Homo sapiens: one gene and its partners. The protein of the gene in region 1 interacts with the protein of each later gene in a pairwise test. Each region holds a gene or a part of one and is shown in the gene's direction. Other genes may lie near its edges.

Region 1 (7,435 bases):
CCAGACTGATGCCTGCGTGTGAGGCCCAGCCTGCCTCCTCAAACTCCTCTTCCCATGAGCCACAATCCTCCCCCACACCCCCTCTGCCCCTCCCTCCAGTGCTGGGCTGTGTGGCCAGGGGACTGGACTGTGTGGCAGGATGACTCCACACAGCCTCCCCCAGGGAGTGGGGATTGGGGGAGGTAGGGTGGGAACCTGTCCCCTCCTATCCCCAGGGAAGCAGGTGGGAAGCCTGTGGCCTTGGCCCTACTCAGGAATTGCCTCTCCTAGCGAGGCGGCCTGGTGAGGTGGTACACTGTATCACTGTGGGGCCACTCCTGGGGACAGGGACAGGTGGGAGGGCAGGGTCCATGCTTCCAAGGTCCTCTGGACACGGGACCCAGGTGGCAGCTCCAAAACCTGGCTAGGATGGGCACAGTGGCTCATGCCAGTAATCCCAGCACTTTGGGAGCTGAGGTGGGTGGATCGTTTGAGCCCAGTAGTTCGAGACCAGTCTGGGCAACATGGTGAGACGCTATTTCTACAAAAAAATAAAAAATATAAATAAATAAAAATTAGTTGGGTGTGGTGGCACATGCCTATAGTCCCAGCTGAGGTGGGAGGCTCACCTGAGCCCAGGAGGTTGAGGCTGCAGTGCCACTGCACTCCAGCCTGGGCAACAGAGTGAGACCCTATCTCAAAACAAAAGAACAAAAACAAAACCTACCTAGCCCCTTCCTTGGGGCTGCCCCTTGAGGCCTTTGTCTGTTCATTCACCAATCATGCACTGGGAGTCTATTTTGTAACTCAGGTGCCCTGGAAGCAGAGCCCAGACCAAGGGAAGCGAGGGGTCCAGGCACACCCGCCAAGGGTGATCTAGGGGCAGGAATGGCAAGTGCAAAGGCCCTGAGGTGGGAATGTGTCTGCGGTGCTGGAGGAGACAGGAGGCCAGTGTGGCCAATGCTAAGCGGGGCTATGGAGAGAGAACTCAGGGAGCAGGCAGGTGGCACAGGCTCGGTCTGGGCCCTGCCCATGCAAGGATAGAAGGCATTTGCCTTGGGGGAGGTGGGATCTACAGAAAGTTCTGAGTGAAGAAGTGACATGACCTGACTCACACTGTGACTGCACCCCTCTGGTGTGATGATGGACACTGCCAGGCAAGCGCAGGAGAGGGAGGATGAGGCAGGCAGGGGCTGAGAAAGGCAGGATTCCAGGTGTGCTTTGCCAACAGAACCTTCAGGGCGGACGGGATGTGGGGCGAGCAGAGAGGCATCAGTGCGGACGACTCCAGGGTTGCTGGCCCAGGGAAGGAAAAAGAGACTTGGCAGGCGCATGAAGCCCCCTGCTGGGACGCCTGTGACACGTAGACCAGCGGCAGATCTTGCCCTCGCCATCCTAACCGTCAGCCTCACCCTCAGCAGGTCCTGCCCTACCCCCCAGACAGCAGCTGCCTCTGCCTGTTCTGGGTCCTGCCAAATCAGTGGCATGGCCGATGGCACACGGGGGATGGGTGTGGCGGGGGACCGGCCCCCTTCTCTTTGGCCTTATTCTGTGGGTGTGATTGGGGCATCACCATGGGCTTCTACCCCGGATGTGCCCTGTGGAGGTCTGCTCCCCAGCTCCCTGCCGGCCAGGGGTCCTCGCCTTACCTCTGCTCACCTGCCCTGCATACCCTCCCAGCAGGCGAGGTCATCCTCCTCACCCATCCCTGCTCTGTCAGCCTCAGCGGAACCCCTGGGTGCCCAGAGGCTCTGGCCACAGCCTCCAGCAGCTTCTTGCTCGGAGGGGCTGCTGGGAGCTGCCCTGAGGCCCCAACTAGGAGTTCCTTCCTCCCACGCCCTGGGGTTGGACTGGTAAGGGGGGAGAAGGGGAGGAATATGAGGTGTGGGATTCTCCCCACGGTGGAGGCTGCACCCTGTTCCCCCTGTTTGGCTGAGGTGCCCTGCACAGAGGTGCTTTGCATTTCTGGGTGATCATTCTCTAGGCGCCTGGTCCGTCCACACTGTCTGCAGTGACCCTGCTCCGTCAACTCTGAGCTTGGCATCTGAGGCCAGCCCTGTACACCCTGCCCTGTAGTCAGGCCCTGGCGGGGCCGCACCGACGTTTGGCTTTGCTCCACTCCCCTCCCGGTCTCTGCCCCTTTCCCCAGCTGGTCCCCTGGGAACAGGACACTTGCTGTGACCCAATGGCATCTGCTCATTTGTCCATTTGCTCCTCTCGTGAGCCACAAGGGTAGGGACTTCCTTGTATCATCTTGGGTCCCCGGGGTCTGGTGTGGGGCCAGGCATTTATTTAGCTGAACTGGACATCAGGGACATCAAGATGTACAGCCCCAAGGTCATGAGTGTTTTGTCAGGAGCCTTAGACCAGTCTGGCCCAGCCTGGAGCTCCCTCCGCATGTGGCCTCTTACAGGAGTGACGCAGCCCCATGCGGTGCTAACAGTGGCAGCACTGAACGTCGGATGGGGCTGAGCCCAGCCACTTCCACAATGGCTGTAGTTCCTATCTCTTCCTCCCTGCTAGGAAAATGTGAAATAGCCCAGAGTGGGGGGTGGGCAGAAGAGTTGCAGGCTACCCAATGCTGGGATGAGCAGAGTTGAGACCTGGGGAGCCAGGCCCAGGACACTTACAGGTGGGGATGTGAGCAGGCACCCCAGAGAGTGAGCACCCCAGCCAGCCAGCACCCATCTACTCCCTCACTGGGGTCTAAGTTCAGCCCCGAGAGCTAGGCTGTAGGTGGGTAGAGTCACAGCCCCAGCGCCGGTGTGAGGGGTGGCCCTGGGCCAGGTAGAGTGAGTATCTGCCTGCTGTCATGCCCCATCCACTTCTGCCGCCTCCCCAGTAGAGGACCCCCTCCATTTCACAGATGGGGAAAAGGGGCCCTGTTGTCTGAAGACTCTCCCATATCCTCCCCTGCCTCTGCCATCCCCTGCTTTGTCCCTTCCCTTCCAGAGGCCCTGCCTTGGTCCTGGTCACTTCCTGGTAGGCACTGGCTCTTCCTCTATGCCTGGGCTCAGGGCCTGGCCACCTAGTTTTCTGACTCCTCCCACTTACTCCCCTCCCCAGTTAACCTCTCTGATCCCAAGTGTGTCTCTCCAGCAGGGAGGAGGGCTATTGCAGCCAGGGATCCCCTTTCTGAGGCTTGGGACCCATTATTGGGCAGCTCTGGGACAGGTGGACGGTGACTTGGCCCACACTCGGTCCAGCTGCAACCCTGAGAACCCGCTTGGTTTGGCTGTGTCTCCTGGAGGCCCTCAGGTATTTCAACCTGTAGGACCCAAACCCAGTCCTTCACCTGCTGCAGGGCCAGCCCTGGACACCCCTGCCCCTGCCTGATTTGGAGCAGCCAATTCAGCCCCTGTCATTGGACTCTGGCCTCTTGTGCTCAGTACAGAGGGTCAGACCTTGGCCGCCTGCCTGGACAGGGCCAGGTCACCACCACCCACCCCCAGCTCCCTTGGGTTCCCAGCAAGATCCTGTCCTTCCTCTACTCACAGCTTCCTGGGCTCTGGGACCTGGGGTCCAGTCCCCACTCCTCATGGGGAGGAGTCCCCCCACGCCCCAAGCAGTTGACTCCCGCACTGGTGGGGGGTCCGCTCGCCCTCAAGCTCTGCAGGCCCAGCTTGGTCTCCCCAGCCTCTTCACTTTCTCCACGGCTCCCTCCACCTACCTGGCCCTGAGAGCTCCCCAGGGAAGCCATTTCCTCCCAGGAAGCCCCTCCTCTTCTCGCCCCTGCCCTTACACCAAGGCATCTGGGCCTACTCTTAGGGAGAGGGTGATGGTGGAGGAAAGGGAGCCTCAGAGGAGGCCAAGTGTAAAGCACCCGGTCTCCTGTGCCTCCCAGCCCCAAGACGACCTCTGGGCCACCGGAGTCCAGACCTGGTCCAAGAGGCGAGGTCCCCCTGGGAAGTGCCTGAAAAGTACCCTGGAGGACATTTGGAAACAAAGACAAGGTTTCCTGGTGCCCAGCAAGCCCTCCCCCACCTCCCCTGCTCCTGTCTTGGCCAGGGCCTAAGTCGCACTCACGGGGCAGGGGTGGGGCCGCCCAGGATCAGGACCACGGGGCTGGGGGGGTGGACAGCGCCCTTTCCACCTGGGTCGCTGGGCACTGGGGTGTCACTGGGAGGGACACGCAGGAGGGACAGACACGCTACCTCACTCACGGGCGAGAACTAAGCACCTACTGTGGACCCGGCGTCTAGGCCCGCGACAACGCCAGTCTTCGCCCCCCAGGGGCCTCGTCCCGGGGCCGCGGAGGCCACGTGCAGTTCCCCGCCCACCCTGAGGTACCGGCCCCGCCCCACGCCCAGCTCGGACCTCCAGGATTGCGGGACCCGCCGGGGAGGGGCGGGGCCGGGGCGGGGCCAGGAGGAGGGCGGACTGGGCGGGCGCGGGCGGGACGGAGCTGCGGCGGCGGCGGGTCCCGCGGGCGGGAGCGCCTGGCGGCCGAGTCAAGCCGCCGCCTCGACCCAGGGCCCGCGGGCCAGGAGAGCGCTCGGCGGGTAAGCCTCGGCGGCGGGTCTCGGCGGGTCTCGGGGGTCTCGCGGGGGGGCGGTCTCCGCGTCTGGAAGGGGCTCGGCGGGCCTTGGCGGTCTGGGGGCTCTCGGCGGGTCTCGGGGGTCTCGGGGGAGTCTCGGGGTCCCGACAGGTCTCGGCGGGTCTCGGGGGTCTCGGGGGAGTCTCCGGGGAGTCTCAGGGGTCCCGGCAGGTCTTGGCAGGTCTCGGGGGAGTCTCAGGGTCCCGGCAGGTATGGGCGGGTGTCGGGGGTCTCGGGTGCGCAGCAGCCTCCCCCGGGCCCCGGGGCCTCCGTGTCCTTGCCAAAGGACGCACGGGGCCTGGGCACGGCGGGCAGTGCCCGAGGGAGCGCGGCTTCGGGGCGGGGGCCGGGTGTCCCTTGCCGGGGGCTCAGGGGTGGGAGGCGGTGCGACGCGTCTGTTTCGCACCCCTCGCGCCCCTCTGGCCCCGCGGCGGGGCCCCTTTACGCGACCCTCCCCACAAGACTCAAAGGCTGCGGCGGGCACTCGCTCTCCGCCCTTCCCGGAATCCAAACTTCCCTCTGCAGCGGCCGCGCTTCACGGAGGGCAAGAAAAGCCGCCCACTGGCGCTGATTCACACTGAAGTGTGAGTGACTGATAGCCGGGCGTCTGAGACTCTCATGGGCAACAGGGAATCTCAGGGGTGGCAGAGGGACTGGAGGAGTTAGGGGGCGGGGACAGCCCCTTCCACCTGTACGCTGGCCTCCCTGCAGCCCAGCACTTTCCCGCTGCTCTGGGCCTCGGCTCCCTGGGGGTATTGAGGGCCTGAGCCCTGCTGTGGGGAGCCTTCTGCTGGTGCTCCTTTCCGTGAGCACCTCCTATCCCCTCTCTGTGCCTCAGTTTGCTCATCTGTTGACACTGGGGACAGCTGTGCCTCCTGGTCTAGTGGCCACACTTAAGTCCTTCGAATTGGCTGTGGCCAGGGGCGGGTACTCCGTGTGGGCTGCTGGGGTGGACAGCCTGCCTGGATGACATGTGTGTGGCCTTGCAGGTGACATGGGCCGGTGATGCAATGTGTAGAATTGTTTCCACAACCGCCTGAAGGCAGGGCCCACAGCCTCCTCCTTGCCGAAGCAAGCCTCTGGGTTCAGGTCAGCCCTGCACCAACTCCATGAGCCTGGACAAGCTCCTGCCCTCACTGGCTCAGGCCCTGTGGGACCAGAGGAGGGGCTGGGCTCCACCCCCTCCTGGTTCTTCCCACTCTGTCCACTGTCTCCTCTACGTAGACACCGTCGAAGGGCCCTCTTGGAGCCCAACCTCAGGGCCCCACTCCAGGCACTCCACTCCTGGCAGGACAGGAGGCCTGGGACGAGGGCTGCAAGGGAGTGAGGATTCTGTCTATCCCCTCTCCCTGCCACCCGCCAGGCTCCCTTTGCCTGGCTCTGTGCCCTGCGTTAGGCACACCCTGGAGGGGGCAGGCAGAAGGAAGACAGATAGGCAGCCGTGTCTAGGAACTGCCAGCCAGGGCCATCTGGTGAGAGGGGTGCTGACAGGGGACCTGGCCTTTCAGGGAGTCCCCAGGCCTCCAGGATCATGGGGGAGCCCACCAAGGAGGCTGGCCTGAAGAGGCAGACAGAGGGAGGACAGGCTCTGGGCCTGCCTTGGCCCTTTCTGCCCACATGGACAGAGGAAGCAGGGTGCTGAGTCAGCTGGAGCTCCCCACCCCCCAGGGATGCACGCACACAAGCAGGCCCACAGACGGGAAGTCCAGGGGCCCAGAGAGACGAGATGGCCAGCCTTGGTTCCTGAGGGGCAGGGAGGAAGGGCGCAAACTCAGCCAGGATCTTGGGTGTGAACTCAGATGCCACCAGTTTCCAGCTGTGTGATCATGGCCAGGAGGCTTCCCCCTGCCACCCCTCCGTTTTCTCATCCATGACCTGAGGGCTGTGAAGCACTTTGTACCTGGTGGGTGGCTATGAGTGTCCGTAGGGGGGATGGTGGTGGTGGTGACATGTGCTTGGTATTCAGTGACAGTGGGTCGCTGAGGGTGCTCTCCCTGGTCCTCAGGGCCGCTGTATGTCCTGTTTTGGGTGGGGGCAGGGACTGGCCTGGAGAGGCCTGGGTAAAGGCCAAGGCTCCCAGGTTCCTGCCCACATTGGACTAAGGCCTGAGTCCATCAGGAGTGGCCAGTGTTGGGCAGCCCCTGGGTCTTCCTGCGTTCTGTCCTCAAAAGCTCCCTTGTGGGGACACCCCAGGTCAGTGACTATGTGTGGCAGGCTCTGCCCTCCTCACTCTCTGTCCTCTCTTGACCTCATGATCTGCCCACCTCCCAAAGTGCTGGGATTACAGGCGTGAGCCCCCACGCCTGGCAGAGTATATAGTTCTTTAATAACCGGGTGGCTTGGCCATCACTGTGCAGCCTGGGTGGGTGAGGAGAAGGGCAGGCTGGCGGGGAAAAGACGGGGAATTTGCCACAAGGTGAGAGCTGTCCTACCCCAGACGCAGTGGAGCGGCTCCCACCCCTCGGGCCAATGAATACAGGGTGGGCCGTCAGGAGGAGGGATCTGAGCCGGGCGGGCAGCCATGCAGGTACAGACAGACTAAGCCAAAGGCGGGCGGTAGGGAGGGTGGGAGACCAGTTTGACGGGAGTGGCCTTTGCATGCCAGGTGTGGTGAGGGTATGGAGGGGCCTGGGAGGCAAGGAGAAGGGGCCGTGCAGACCCTGGAATCCTTCCTCCAGGATAGGCGGCTCCTCCCCAGAAGGCCTCTGCATTCTTCTGGTGGCCCTGTCTGGACACCGAGGGGCTGGAGACAGTCCCACGTGTGGGCTGCCTAAGTCCCAGAGGGGGTGGTAGGGAGCATTTCAGGCTCACTGGCTGGCCCCCTTCCCTGGGGCACTGGACCCTCCTCACCACCCCTTGGCCTGTGCACGGGAGGGTAGACAGGATGGTGCCAAGAGCAAGGGACTGGCCCTCAGCCAC
Region 2 (7,028 bases), on another chromosome or scaffold:
AAAAATTGTCTTCCATTAAACCGGTCTCTGGTGCCAAAAATGTTGGGGACCATTGCTTTACAGAGCACATAACATGCACTTGATCCATGGTAGCTGCCATTAGCTGGGATGTCCATTCATTTCTGGATTCAGCAATGAGGATGGACGGAGGTGACGATTGTGGTAATTGGGGAGGAGTTGCTGCGAGTGGTCATTGCTGGGTTGTTGGTGTCATTGGTTGTGGTGGTGGTTGTGGCTGTTTCTTGTTGCAGGTTCGTGGTGATAATGGCTCTTGCAGGTGGGCTGGTGGTGGTGGCGGTTGGTGTTTAATGTTGTTCGTTGGTGGTGGATTGTTTTCAGCTGGAAATTCTGGAGATGCTTGGTGACCAGTGGAATGATGACCATCGGTGGTTGCTGTTATTTGGAGAGGAAAGGTGTTGGTAGTAGCGTTCATTTGCTGCTGGTAGTTTATTGTTGGTTTCTGGTAAGATGATGATCAGCAATGGTGGTGCTGGTTCAATGTTGGGTTTTGAACAGGATAGGACTGGTGACTGCTGCTTTCTGTGGTTGCTAATGGTAGTTGGTTATGTGTGGTTGTTGATGGCTAGTATTGTTTTTTTGTTTTGTTTTGTTTCTGAGACAGAGTCTCGCTCTGTCACCCCGGCTGGAGTGCAGTGGTGCAATCTCGGCTCACTGCAACCTCCACCTCCTGGCTTCAAGCAATTCTCGTGCCTCAGCCTCCCAAGTAGCTGAGATTACAAGCACCTGCCACCACACCCAGCTAATTTTTGTGCTTTTAGTGGAGACGGGGTTTCGCCATGTTGGCCAGGCTGGTCTCCAACTCCTAACCTCAAGTGATCCACCCGCTTTGGCCTCCCAAAGTGTGAGATTACAGGTGTGAGCCACTGTGCCTGGCCGATGACTAGATGGTGGTTGGTTATTATAGCGTGGTGGTGGTGGTGGTGGTGATCGTGGGAGAATGTAAGGAAGGCTGATGCTGGAATTGCTCATGGGACCTGTCTGACATTGGCTAGTCATGATGGTATTGGAGTTATCAGCAGTTTCTGTTTGTCTTTGAGAAGGGTAGGAGAGAGAGTGAAGACGTTCACTGGTTGCCTTTGGTTGGTGATGGTGGTCATGTGAGGATAATAGTGATTGTCTCTTCTTTTTTTTTTGAGACAGAGTCTCGCTCTGTCACCCAGGATGGAGTGCAGTGGCATGATCTTGGCTCACTGCAAGCCCCACCTCCTAGGTTCATGCCATTCTCCTGCCTCAGCCTCCCGAGTAGCTGGGACTACAGGCGCCCGCCACCATGCCTGGCTAATTTTTTTCTATTTTTTTAGTAGAGATGGGGTTTCACCGTGTTAGCAAGGATGGTCTCGATCTCCTGACCTCGTGATCTGCCCGCCTCAGCCTCCCAAAGTGCTGGGATTATAGGCGTGAGCCACCACACCTGGCCAATAGTGATTGTTTCTAAGGTACAGTCACAGGGCCAGGAACAATGGCTCATGCCTGTAATCCCAACAGTTTGGAAGACGGAGGTGGGAGGATCACTTGAGGCCAGATGTTCGAGACCAGCCTGGGAGACATGGCAATACCCCATCTCTACAAAGCATTTAAAAGTTAGCCAGGCATGGTGGCATGGACCTGTAGTACCAGCTAATTGGGAAGCTGAGGTGGGAAGATCACTTGAGCCCAGGAGTTCCAGGCTGCAGTGAGCTGTGATGGCCCCACTGCACTCCAGCCTGAGCAACAGAGACAGACTCTGTTTCTAAACAAATAAATAAGATACAGCCACAAAGCAGGGAGACCAGTGAAGTGGCTGCTGGGTCCAGAATCAGTGGCCATGAGGATGGACAGGAAAGGCTGGGAGTCAAAAGGAATTTAGGAGAAAGAATCAGTTAAGACCACTAACTGGGCACGGGCACAGTGGCTCACACCTGTAATCCCAGCACTTTAGGAGGCCGAGGCAGGTGGATCACTTGAGGTCAGGTGTTCGAGACCAGTCTGGCCACCATGGTGAAACCCCATCTCTACTAAAAATACAAAAATTAGCCAAGCGGGGTGGCATGTGCCTGTAATCCCAGCTACTCAGGAGGCTGAGGCAGCAGAATCGCTTGAACCCGAGAGGCAGAGGTTGCAGTGAGCTGAGATCGCACCACTACACTCCAGCTTGGGCAACAGAGCGAGACTCTGTCTCAGAGGGGAAAAAAAAATGCCCATAATTGATTGGATGCAAAGAGTGAACGTAACAATGAATCAGAGACAGGCAGGTTTCTGTCTTGGGGGTTGGGGACCACATCCCAGAGGATCTTCCCCAAAAAGCAGGAGGGACAAGACCAGGGTTCCCCAGCTCCAGCTTCTGCGTGGAGATGTTTGAGACGGTAGCCACCGACTGTCAGCAATCTCCAGCGACGAGACAAAGAGCCCAGCTCCAGAAAGACAAGGGTCCCCACGTATAAAGGCCAGGCGCGGTGGCTTACGCCTGTAATCCCAATACTTTAGGAGGCCGAGGCGTGCGGATCACGAAGTCAGGAGATCGAGACCATCCTGGCTAACACAGTGAAACCCCGTCTCTAAAAATACAGGGGCTGGGCGCGGTGGCTTACACCTATAATCCCAGCACTTTGGGAGGCCGAGGCGGGCAGATCATGAGGTCAGGAGATCGAGACCATCCTGGCTAACATGGTGAAACCCCGTCTCTACTAAAAATACAAAAAATTACCCAGGCGTGGTGGCGGGTGCCTGTAGTCCCAGCTACTTGGGAGGCTGAGGCAGAAGAATGGCGTGAACTCGGGAGGCAGAGCTTGCAGTGAGCCGAGATGGCGCCACTGCACTCCAGCCTGGGTGAGAGAGCAAGACTCCGTCTCAAAACAATAAAAATACAAAAATACAAAAAAAAAATTAGCCGGGCGCGGTGGCGGGCGCCTGTAGTCCCAGCTACTCGGGAGGCTGAGGCAGGAGAATCGCTTGAACCCAGGAGGTGGAGGTTGCAGTGAGCCGAGATCATGCCACTGCACTCCAGCCTGGGCAACAGAGTGAGATTCCATCTAAAAAAAAAAAAGAGAGAGAGAGAGAAAAGAAAAGAAACAGAGTCCAGTCCCCCTGCTCCCCTGAGGGATGGAGCCTTTGGAGGTGAGAATGTTGTTTGCACAGTGCATGGACGCAGGGTGTGGCCCCAGAGCCCCACTGAGCTGGGGGCAAGGCTCCAGGGCCACCCTCAGGCACCAGGGCAGGGTCTGGGAGCTGAGAGCTGGCTCCAGAAGCAGCTACGGAGGCTTAGCTCTCCTCCCGGCAACCACAGCTCGCAGGACCTGGGTGAGGAAGGAAGTGGCTGTTTGTTTGCTGTCTTCAATCTAGAGCTCTTGCTCATCACGCCCAGAAAAAGCAGACAGCCTGGAGCCCATGGGGTGAGTTGCAAAAGCTCCCTCCTCCAGCCCTTCCTCCTGGCCAGCTCATGGCCACCATTGATGGGGACAGTGAGGAACGCTAGCATTTACACTGGACAACCTTTGCTTCGTTGAATCTGCAGAGCAGCCTGTGAGATTTGCACCCCTCGATGTTCCCATTTTCCGAATGAGGAAACTGAGGCAGAGAGGTTAGGTGAGCTGCCCAATCTAAAATGAAAGAGGATTTTGACTCAGTGACTCCCAAGGCCACACTATTAACAGCCATCTTGGCCGGGCACAGCGGCTTGCACCTGTAATTCCAGCGCTTTGGGAGGCCAAGGCAAGAGGATCAGCAGTCCAGGAGTTTGAGACCAGCCTAAGCAACATAGTTAGACTTTGTCTCTATTTAAAAAAAAAAAAATGTGGTTGGGTGCGGTGGCTCATCCCAGTGCCCGTCATTCCAGCACTTTGGGAGGTCAAGGCGGGCAGATCACTTGGGGTCAGGAGTTCAAGACCAGCCTGGCCAACGTGGTGAAACCCTGTCTCTACTAAAAACACAAAAATTAGCCAGGTGTGGTGGCGTGCACCTGTAATCCCAGCTACTCAGGAGGCTAAGGCAGGAGAATTGCTTGAACCTGGGAGGCAGAGGTTGAGCCAAGGTCATGCCACTGCACTCACAGACTGAGCAACAAGAGCGAGACTCCATCTCAAATAAAAAAAAAAATGTGGCTGGGTGCAGTGGCTCACGCCTATAATCCCAGCACTTTGGGAGGCCGAGATGAGTGGATTGCCTGAGGTCAGGAGTTCGAGACCAGCCTGGCCAACATGATGAAACCTGGTCTCTACTAAAAATACAAAAATTAGCCAGGCGTTGTGCACGCCTGTAATCCCAGCTACTTGGGAGGCTGAGGCAGGAGAATCACTTGAACCTGGGAGGCAGAGGTTGCAGTAAGCCTAGATCATGCCGCTGCACTCCAGCCTGAACAACAGAGCAAGACTCCATCTCAAAAAAAAAAAAATGTATTAGCCAGGCGTGGTAGTATGCACCTGTGGTCCCAGCTACTCAGGAGGCTGAGGCAGGAGGATTCGCTTGAGCCTGGGAGGTCAAGGCTGCAGTGATATCAAACCACTGCCTTCCAACCTGGGCAACAGAACAAGACTCTGTCCAAAAAAAATAACAGGCACCTTGACCACAGCCTCCTGTCCTCCTAAGCAATGAGAGGCCAGCAGGACTATGTGCTGACCCCACATGGCCTGGGCTGTCTATCCCTCCAGGACCATGACCCTCCATTCCAAACAGACTAGAATCCTGGTGTCCACCACACACCCAAGGCCTCTCTGGCTGATGTCTCTTGCAGCCACCACTGATGCTGCCTGGAAAGTTCATGTTGCAAGACGTGCCTTCTACAGGAAGCCCTCTCACCTCTCCACAGTACTTTCCAGCCATGGTCTCCTCTGGGCAACTGAGACACCACTTGGGGAACACCGAGCCCCCCAAGGGCAGGTTCTGGGCCTGGTCCACCTAAGCCTGGTCTCCACCTACCTCCATGCACAGTAGGGGCCCAGGAAGTGTGTTCCCTCCATGGCACACATCCCCCAGCCCCATAGGCACCATCACCTTCACCACAAACAGCCCCTCCCTGGTGTGATACCAGGAAGGTTGTCCCCGCCTGCCCTAGTTCTGCCTTCAGCCTTGGGGTAGAGAGACCTCTCTGAAGAGCTGAAGGAAGAAGCTACCCGTCCTTCCTACCCCACCCACCTCAAGCCCCTGACTGCCTTTCACAAGAGCTCCAGCAGGTTGAGTCATATTCAGCTTGTGGTCAACTGTGACCACAAGCTCTTCGTTGCATCCCCACCCCCAAGGAAGAGACTTACAAACAAACAGTTTTGACTTGACCCATGGAGACTTGGAGGCCACAGAATGAGAGAGATATCTGGGAGACAGGGCAGGGGGCAGTCTCATCCCAATAGGACTTCATTCATTCATTCATTCATTCAACAAGTATGTATTGACCAGGCTTTCTGTCCAACACTGATGCCTTAAATCCTCTCAAGGTCACAGATGACATTTCCTGAGGCATCTCGGCGCATTTTTTCTCTTTGTTCGCTCCTGTACTTGTTTCAGAGACCCCACACAAGGGTCATTATGGAATCCATTTGGTTATTTGTTGTTGTTGAGATGGAGTCTCGCTCTGTTGCCCAGGCTGGAGTGCAATGACGTAATCTTGGCTCACTGCAACCTCCACCTCCTAGGTTCAAGCAATTCCCCTGCCTCAGCCTCCCGGATAGCTAAGACTACAGACACCCGCCACCACGCCGGGCTAATTTTTGTATTTTTAGTAGAGATGAGGTTTCACCATGTTGGCCAGGCTGGTCTTGAACTCCTGACCTCAAGTGATCTGCCTGCCTCGCCTCCAAAAGTGCTGGGATTACAGGCGTGAGCCACCATGCGCGGCCAAATCCACTTGCAAAGAGGAGAAACTGAGGCTTGGAGAAGAGAAGTGACCTCCCCAGAGTCACACAGTCAGTCAACTGTCAAGCCAGGCTTTGACCCCAATCCATCACATGCCAAAATTCTCGACTATCCTCCCCACACGATATTCACTTGAGCAAAACCCTCTCTCCCTTCGATGCAAACAGCCTGTGATTAATTTTTTTTTTTTTTTTTTTTTTTGAGACGGAGTCTCACTCTTTCACCCAGGCCGGACTGCAGTGGCACCATCTCAGCTCACTGCAAGCTCCGCCTCCCAGGTTCACGCCATTCTCCTGCCTCAGCCTCCCGAGGAGCTGGGACTACGGGCGCCCGCCACCGCACCTGGCTAATTTTTTGTAGTTTTAGTAGAGACGGGGTTTCACCGTGTTAGCCAGGATAGTCTCGATCTCCTGACCTCGTGATCCACCCACCTCGGCCTCCCAAAGTGCTGGGATCACAGGTGTGAGCCACCGTGCCCGGCCCAGCCTGTGATTTTACAGGTGGCTGGAGCATGGAGTGTCTGAGGGCCTCTAGTGCCTGGGGCAGGATAGAGAGGGAGAGAATGGTCAGAGAAGAGGGCCACTCTGCCAGATGAGGAAAGAGGGGAAGGGCAGGAAGAGGAACCAAGTCGTCAGAGCCGGGAGAGCCAGGAGGGCTGATGGGCCTAGCCAGACACAGCTGACCCCAGTGAGGGGAAGTGGCCTGGGGTCTTAGTTCAGCCTGAGTGGCCTGGCAGGCTGAAGCCTGCACTGGCCCCCAAAGGGGAAATTGTAGACATGACCCATCTTCTCCCCAACCCATCCTCATCTGACCTCAGCAGCAACCCCGGCGATCTCTGATACAGACCAGCCTGGGGAAGGACAGCTTCGTGGGTCCTCCCCAAGGTCCTCTCTGCACTGCTGTGTGTCCTTGAAGAGGACACTTAACCTCTCTGTGCTGTAGTTTTCTCTTCTATAAAATGGACCCAGGATGGGTGCGGTGGCTCACGCCTATAATCCCAGCACTTTGCGAGGCCGAGGTGGGAGGATCACCTGAGGTTGGGAGTTCGAGATGAGCGTGCCCAACGCGGTAAAACCTTGTCTCTACTAAAAATACAAAAATCAGCCAGGCGCCTGTAATCCCAGCTACTCAAGAGGCTGAGGCAGGAGAATCGCTTGAACCCAGGAGGTGGAGGTTGCAGTGAGCTG
Region 3 (7,028 bases), on another chromosome or scaffold:
TGTAGGAGACCAGATGGGGTAGGCATGAAGTAGGCAGAGGAGGAACGGAGGTTTCAGAGCTCACTAGTTTAATTCTTTGTGTTTTCTTGTTTGTTTTTTGAGACAGAGTCTCACTCTGTCACCCAGGCTGGAGTACGGTGGTGCAATCTCAGCTCACTGCAACCTCTGCCTCCCAGGTTCAAGCGATTCTCCTACCTCAGCCTCCCAAGTAGTCCCTGCAGTTGGGACTACAGGTGCATGCCACCACACCTGGCTAATTTTTGTATTTTTTTGGTAGAGATGGGGTTTCACCATGTTGGCCAAGCTAGTCTTGAGCTCCTGACCTAAAGAGATCCACCCGCCTCGGCCTCCTAAAATGCTAGGATTACAGGCATAAGCCACCACGCCTGGCCTCACCAGTTTAATTCTTACATGGGGTCAGGATGGGATAAATATAGAGGGGATGTGAATAAAGACCCAGACTGAAGAAGGCAGTGGACACAGGGGACATGGAGGGCATGTGTCAGTTGGGTGGCCCTTCTCAATGTGGCACATTTCTTGCCGTCATGTATTACTGCGTGCTGTCGTTTGCAGAATGACATCTCTGAAAAGGAGCAACGATGGGGAGCCAAGACCATCGAGGGGTCTGGACGCACAGAACACATCAAGTAGGTGCCGAAAGGACTGGAGAAAAGGAAGGGGGTTATGGGAAGAGCCCAAAGAAAACTCGGAGACTTGGGGGAAGGTGAGGGAGGAAAAGGATAGGGTAGTTCATGTCTATGTATTATTGTGTTTGTTTTTTTTCTAGAGTCTGTTCCTGTGTGTACCTGTGTGTCATTGCATATTTCCATTTTATGTCTCTCCTCTTACCCTCCTCAACCCTATTATCTATCTTTTATACCTAACAACTCTGCTATTTCCCCAAGTGGGTCTATTGGATTAACTGCCTCCCTTCCTTTAGTAAGGCATGAGAGATTCATAGAGGAAGTGGACCAAATACTAAGGTCCTCTCTATCTATCTACCTGGCAATCATCTATCTCCTATCTATCTCTTCAGATAAATGTAAATATGTATTTAGAATTCAGGGTGACTTCCTTCAGATGAACTAAGAACAATTCAGTAAAATGTCAAGGTGAAGAACTCAGAATAAATGCTATAAAAAGAGGCCACTTCAGCTCCCATAACTGGCCCAAATAACTTTTAAAATACAGATTTGTACTTAGCTATTTGACAGAAGTTGGAAGCCATGAATGGTAATATGAAGAAATGTAACACTTGGAAAACCTGTTGATAAAAACTATTTTGGCAACGATGTTCAGGGATCTTTAAGATTATAGCCCCATATGCATTTTACCAGAAACAAACAAACAAACAAAACCCTCCGATACCAGAAGATAAAAGGAACTTACAGACATATCCAGGGGTTTCTGTGGGATATGTCATACATTCAGGCTGAGAGATCCCCTTCTCTCTTCCACGGATGATTCAGGATCATCTAACCAGGACCATCTGCTTTGGATAGTATCAGAATGTCAAACATTAGTAGCAAGGTAGACACAATAAATAGTGTAACAAGCAAAAATTCAACAACTACACACAAAATGGCAAGATTAATACAGTTTTAAGCTCCATTTTTAACTCCCCCTACCGCACCCTAAAAGCAGTGTTTTTACCTCTAGATTTTAAAAAGTGTCAGTGGATGACCACATTGCACAAGCAACATACTGTGAAAGCCTGGCACAAGTTTCTACAACTGGATGACAATACCACATTGTTTAATCAGAAATAAATGGTTTCGGCCGGGCGTGGTGGCTCACGCTTGTAATCCCAAAACTTTGGAAGGCCGAGCGAGGAAGATCACTTGAGGTCAGGAGTTCAAGACCAGCATGGGCAACATGATGAAACCCTGTGTCTACTAAAAATACAAAAATTAGATGGGCGTGGTGGCGGGCACCTGTAATCCCAGCTACTCAGGAGGCCGAAGCACGAGAGTCTCTTGAACCCAGGAGGCACAGGTTGCAGTGAGCTGAGATCGCACCACTGCACTCCAGCCAGGGTGATAGAGCGAGACTCAGTCTCAATAAATAAATAAATAAATAAATAAATAAATAAATAAATAAATGGTTTCAATTAAGTAGCTATAATGAATATTATTCTTAAACCATGCCATTCTGGAAAAAGATTGAAACAATGGAACAGGGTCATTCAGGAAGCTTCTGTGATACCCCTCTATAGACTCATAGATCAAAAAAAAAAAAAAAAAAACCACAAGACCCTTTTCCTTTTCTGAATAAAGGCCACTCAACGCTGGTATTCTGGGAATTGTCCAGATGAGGATGCACACTTCATGCCTTTGGTGGTATTGTAGCCAATGAGGTTTATCCGAGGTGTGATTATTGCTAATTGAAAACTTCCCAACACTCCGCCATGACGACTTGCAATATAGTAGGCATTGGCAAAAAAAAAAAAAAAAAAAAAAAAAAGAGCAAGCAACCCTCATAAAAAAATGAAATAACTTAAAAAAAAATAGCCACCCTGAAGATGTATAGTTACAGGTCAATGGGATAGCCAATGTCTAATGCAGTACTTAGCACTTCTGAGCAGCTCAGTGATGTTAGTTTTGTTTCCTGTTAATATAGGTTAGTTTAATCAGATTTCCTTTCTAAAATCTAACAAACATGTAAACAGACAACAGCCCTTTTTTCTCCTAAGTGGTGTCTACCTGGACTGTTGGATTGCACAACTCCTATACACAGATCACTCTGACGGGTGCTGCCTGGAGTGGTACAACATGGTGACCCTGCACATTTCCTTGTTAACCTAACTGAATCTATCAGATAGAATAAACGATGGAGATATTGACAAAAAAATCTCGCTCATCTCCCATTTACCCAGGTTATCAAGGAGTGAAAGCCTGGTATCTGCTGGTAACAGGCCAGGTGGCTTTAGACAAGTCCCTTTTCCTCTCTGATTCTCATTTTGCCCATCTGGATCAAAAAGACCTCTAGAGGACTTTCCAGTAGTAAGTCTCCACTATTTGGGGATTCCCTCTCGTTAGTGTGGGCTAAGTCAGTCTTTAACATCTGATGGGAATCACCATGGTCCTTGGAAAGGAGAGGGAAATTGGAGAGGAGAACAGTAGCTGTAGATGCTAACACTGACAGATCCCAAAATGAAAAAACAAAAAACAAACAAACAAAACAAAACAGTAGCTGTAGAGCTGAGACGACTAAAAGCAGGAAAAGGAAGTGGTTGCAGTTCTTACTAATCTTACTACCTTCCCCACACCGTGATGTCTCTTTTTAGGTCTGTCTTGAATAAATTTAGTTTGGATAGTAATTTGGTAATTCAGTGAATAATTCAAATGGTCCTATGCATCCCTTATCCATTCTGTAAAGGAACTGCCTGGTTTTCAAGAACTATCACCCTTCTCTCCACCTTCTTTTCTCCACTCTTGCCCATTCATTCTCAAGACTCAAGGGTGTCTTTTCCCTTGACCTGTTTGTTTATTTTCAAATCTGTCACAGACTGATACTTTTGTAAAATAAAATACAATTAAGTTTCTGGAAAAATAAATGGTTAAAAATAACATAGACAATACAAACACAGTTTTTATTTTTAAATTCAACAGATATAAAATCACGATGTTGTCAGGCATGCTAGTCTGTGCCTATAGACCCAACTACTCAGGAGGCTGAGGCAGGAGGATCACTTGAGTCCAGTAGTTCTGGGCTATAGTGCTCTATGCTGATTGGGTCTCCACGCTGAATTCTGAATCAATATAGTGACCTCCCACCTCCCAGGAGCAGGGGACCATAGGTTGCCTAAGAAGGGGTGAACTTGCCCAGGTCAGAAATGGAGCAGGTCAAAACTCCAGTGCTGATCAGTAGTGGGATTGTGTCTGTGAGTAGCCACTGTACTCCAGCCTGGGCAACAGTGAGACCCCATTTCTAAAAAAGAAAAAGAAAAAGAATAAAATCACTATGTCAAATTGCTATAAAAGTTTCTAAACACATATTCTCAATTTTTATTCTTATTTCCCTGTGAAACAGAAACAGTTCAGCTTGTGGACCACACACTGAGTGGCACTGCTCTGGAATAATCTTTCAGCACTTCCTGGAACCAGTCTGGCCTTTAGATTAAATCTTTACTGAGCTATAACCATAGGATGTCTGCCTCAGTGGCCCTGTCCTCTTCTCGTGCCCTGACATTTTATAGCAAGTGGAAATAAAGAATGGTGTAATGCCAAGAGTATAGAAATAGAATTCTGGAGCTCTAGGGACTGATTCCAGCTCTGCTGTAAAAAGGCTTATGATGCTGAGGAGAGTAATAATATTTTACCATCCTATCTTGATTTCCAGCGCTGACTGGAGATTATAGTACCATCCCTGTTTACCTCACAGGGGTACTGGGAAGAGCCATGGCTATAACTTAAGAATAATGACTAACATTTATTAAGCTATTATATGTCTTGCAAAACACAGAGTACTTTTTAAAAACAATCCTATATCATAGATGACGTTGGCATCCTGATTTCACAGAAAAGTGAATGGATATATTAATGTTTAGCAATTTGTCCGAGGATACAGAGATACAGGTTGAGCATCCCTAATCCAAAAATTCAAAATCTAAAATGTTCCAAAATCTGAAATTTTTGAAAGCCCACATGATACCACAAGTAGAAAATTCCACACCTGACTACATGTGATGGGTCTCAGTCAAAATACAGGTGCACAACAGTTTTTTCAGCGTCCCCAAGGGAAAAATAAAGTTACCTTCATTTATTTAGTTCTTCTTTAATACCTTCCTTAATATAGTGTATATGACACATAAATGAATTTCCTGTTTACACATGGGTCTCGTCCCCAAGATATCTCATTATGTATATGCAAATATTCCAAAACCTGAAAAAATCCTGAATCCAAAACACTTCTGGTCCCAAGCGTTTGGGATGAGGGATAGTCAACCTGTAGTAATTTGAATTCGGCTCAGTCTGACTCCATGGGCTGAAATCTTAACCAATATATTGTTTTTGTCTAATAAACATAATATCGTCATGTCCGTAATTCTTTTGTTGAAATGAAATGCAAATTCCCATGAACTAAGCTATTGCCAATTCCCTAAGGCTGCTTGCTATTCTGTTTACAGTGACAAAGTACTTGATAAGTTGGCCTTAATAATACTACAATCACTTCATAAACAAACCTCTTTATGAGTGCCCAAAGTCTCTTTCATTTAAGGTTTTCTTCACTTTATTATTTTTCAAAAATTAACTTTGTTTTTTTTGAGACGGAGTTTCGCTCTGTCATCCAGGCTGGAGTGCAGTGGTACGATCTCGGCTCACTGAAACCTCCGCCTCTGCCTCCCAGCTTCAAGTGATTCTCCTACCTCAGCTTCCCGAGTAGCTGGGATTACAGGCATGTGCCACCTTGCCCAGCTAATTTGTGTATTTTTAGTAGAGACGGGGTTTAACCATGTTGGCCAGACTGGTCTTGAACTCCTGACCTCAAGTGATCCGCCTGCCTCGGCCTCCTACAGTGCTGGGATTACAGGTGTAAGCCACCATTGCCCAGGCAAAAATTAAATTTATTGATACCTAATCATTATAAGCAAATAGTTCAATGAGTTTTGACTATATATATATAATATAACCACCAATGCAATCAAGATATAGAATATATCTATTACCATGAAAATTTCCCTGCACCTCTTTGCAGTCAATACACCCCATACTGATCTTTTTGTCACTATAGATTAGTTTTGTCTGGCATAGAATTTCATGCAAACAGAATAATATAGAATGTATTGTTTTGTGTTGTCTTCTTTCAGCATAATGTTTTCCAGATTTATCCATGGTGTTGTGTATATAAGTCTTTTGTTCTTTTATATTGTCATGTAGTGTCCCATTGTATGGATATGTCACAGTTTTATTATTCATTATCCTGTCAATAGCCATTTGGATTATTGACAATTTGGATCTATTACAAATGAAACTGTCATGGGCATTTGGGTACAAATCTTTTTGTTGACATATCCTTATTTCTCTTGGAAAATTGCCAGGAGTAGAATTGCTGAGTCATATAATAAGTGTATGTTAAACATTTTGAGAGACTCTCAAACTCTTTTCCAAAGGGAATTTACCCTCTTTCATTCCTACCAGTAATGTGTGGGTTTCAGATGCTCCACATTTTTGTCAACATTTGTTATTGTTAGTATTTTTAAATTTAGCTGGGTGCAGTGGCTCATGCCTGTAATCCCAGCACTTTAGGAGGCCAAGGCAGGAGGATGACTTGAGCCCAGGAGTTCAAGACCATCTGGACAATGTGGAGAGATTCAGAGTCTACAAAAAAATTAAAAATTGGCTGGCTGTGGTCTGAGCTATTCAGGAGGCTGAGGCAGGAGAAGCACTTGAGCCCAGGGGGTTGAGGCTGCAGTGAGCCATGTTTGCCCCACTGCACTCCAGCCTGGGTGACAGACTGAGATCCTCTCTAAAAGACAAACAAAACAAAACAACAACAACAACAACAAAACCAACTTAACCACTCTTTTAAGTTAATTTGAATTTCTCTGATGACCAGTTTTATTGAGTATATTTTCATTTGCCATTCATATATCTTCATATATCTTCTTTATGAAGTATCTGTTCACATCTTTTTCTCACTTTTAAAGTGAGTTGTTTGTCTTTTTATTAAGTTGCTGAAAGTTCTTTATATATTCTGGATGTAAGTCTTTTGTGAAATATGTGTTTTACAAGTGTATTCTCCCAGAACATAACTTGCTTTTTCACTTTATTGATTGATTGATTGATTATTTATTGATTGATTGCTCTGTTGCCCAGGCTGGAGTGCAGTGACATGATCTCAGCTCACTGCAACCTCTGCCTCCTGGGTTCAAGCGATTCTGCTGCTTCAGCCTCCTGAGTAGCTGGGACTCAGGCGCCCACCACCAAGCCCAGCTAATTTTTGTATTTTTGGTAGAGACGGGGTTTCACCATAGTGGCTAGGCTGGTCTTGAGCTCCTGACCTTGTGATCCACCCGCCTTGACCTC

The links. Proteins that work in one complex are often made in the same cells at the same time.
Region 2: the proteins of SH3BP2 (region 1) and MYO1F interact in binary tests that used the Homo sapiens proteins (3 or more experiments, as listed by UniProt).
Region 3: the proteins of SH3BP2 (region 1) and HCLS1 interact in binary tests that used the Homo sapiens proteins (3 or more experiments, as listed by UniProt).

What each region holds. Positions count from the first base shown.
Region 1 is NC_000004.12:2,788,658-2,796,092, forward strand, and holds the start of SH3BP2 (SH3 domain-binding protein 2), read left to right. Parts: upstream 1-4,427; 5' UTR 4,428-4,481; intron 4,482-7,435. UniProt on the Homo sapiens protein: Binds differentially to the SH3 domains of certain proteins of signal transduction pathways. Binds to phosphatidylinositols; linking the hemopoietic tyrosine kinase fes to the cytoplasmic membrane in a phosphorylation dependent mechanism.
Region 2 is NC_000019.10:8,567,437-8,574,464, reverse strand, and holds part of MYO1F (unconventional myosin-If), read left to right. Parts: intron 1-7,028. UniProt on the Homo sapiens protein: Myosins are actin-based motor molecules with ATPase activity. Unconventional myosins serve in intracellular movements. Their highly divergent tails are presumed to bind to membranous compartments, which would be moved relative to actin filaments.
Region 3 is NC_000003.12:121,650,898-121,657,925, reverse strand, and holds part of HCLS1 (hematopoietic lineage cell-specific protein), read left to right. Parts: intron 1-573; coding exon 574-647; intron 648-7,028. UniProt on the Homo sapiens protein: Substrate of the antigen receptor-coupled tyrosine kinase. Plays a role in antigen receptor signaling for both clonal expansion and deletion in lymphoid cells. May also be involved in the regulation of gene expression.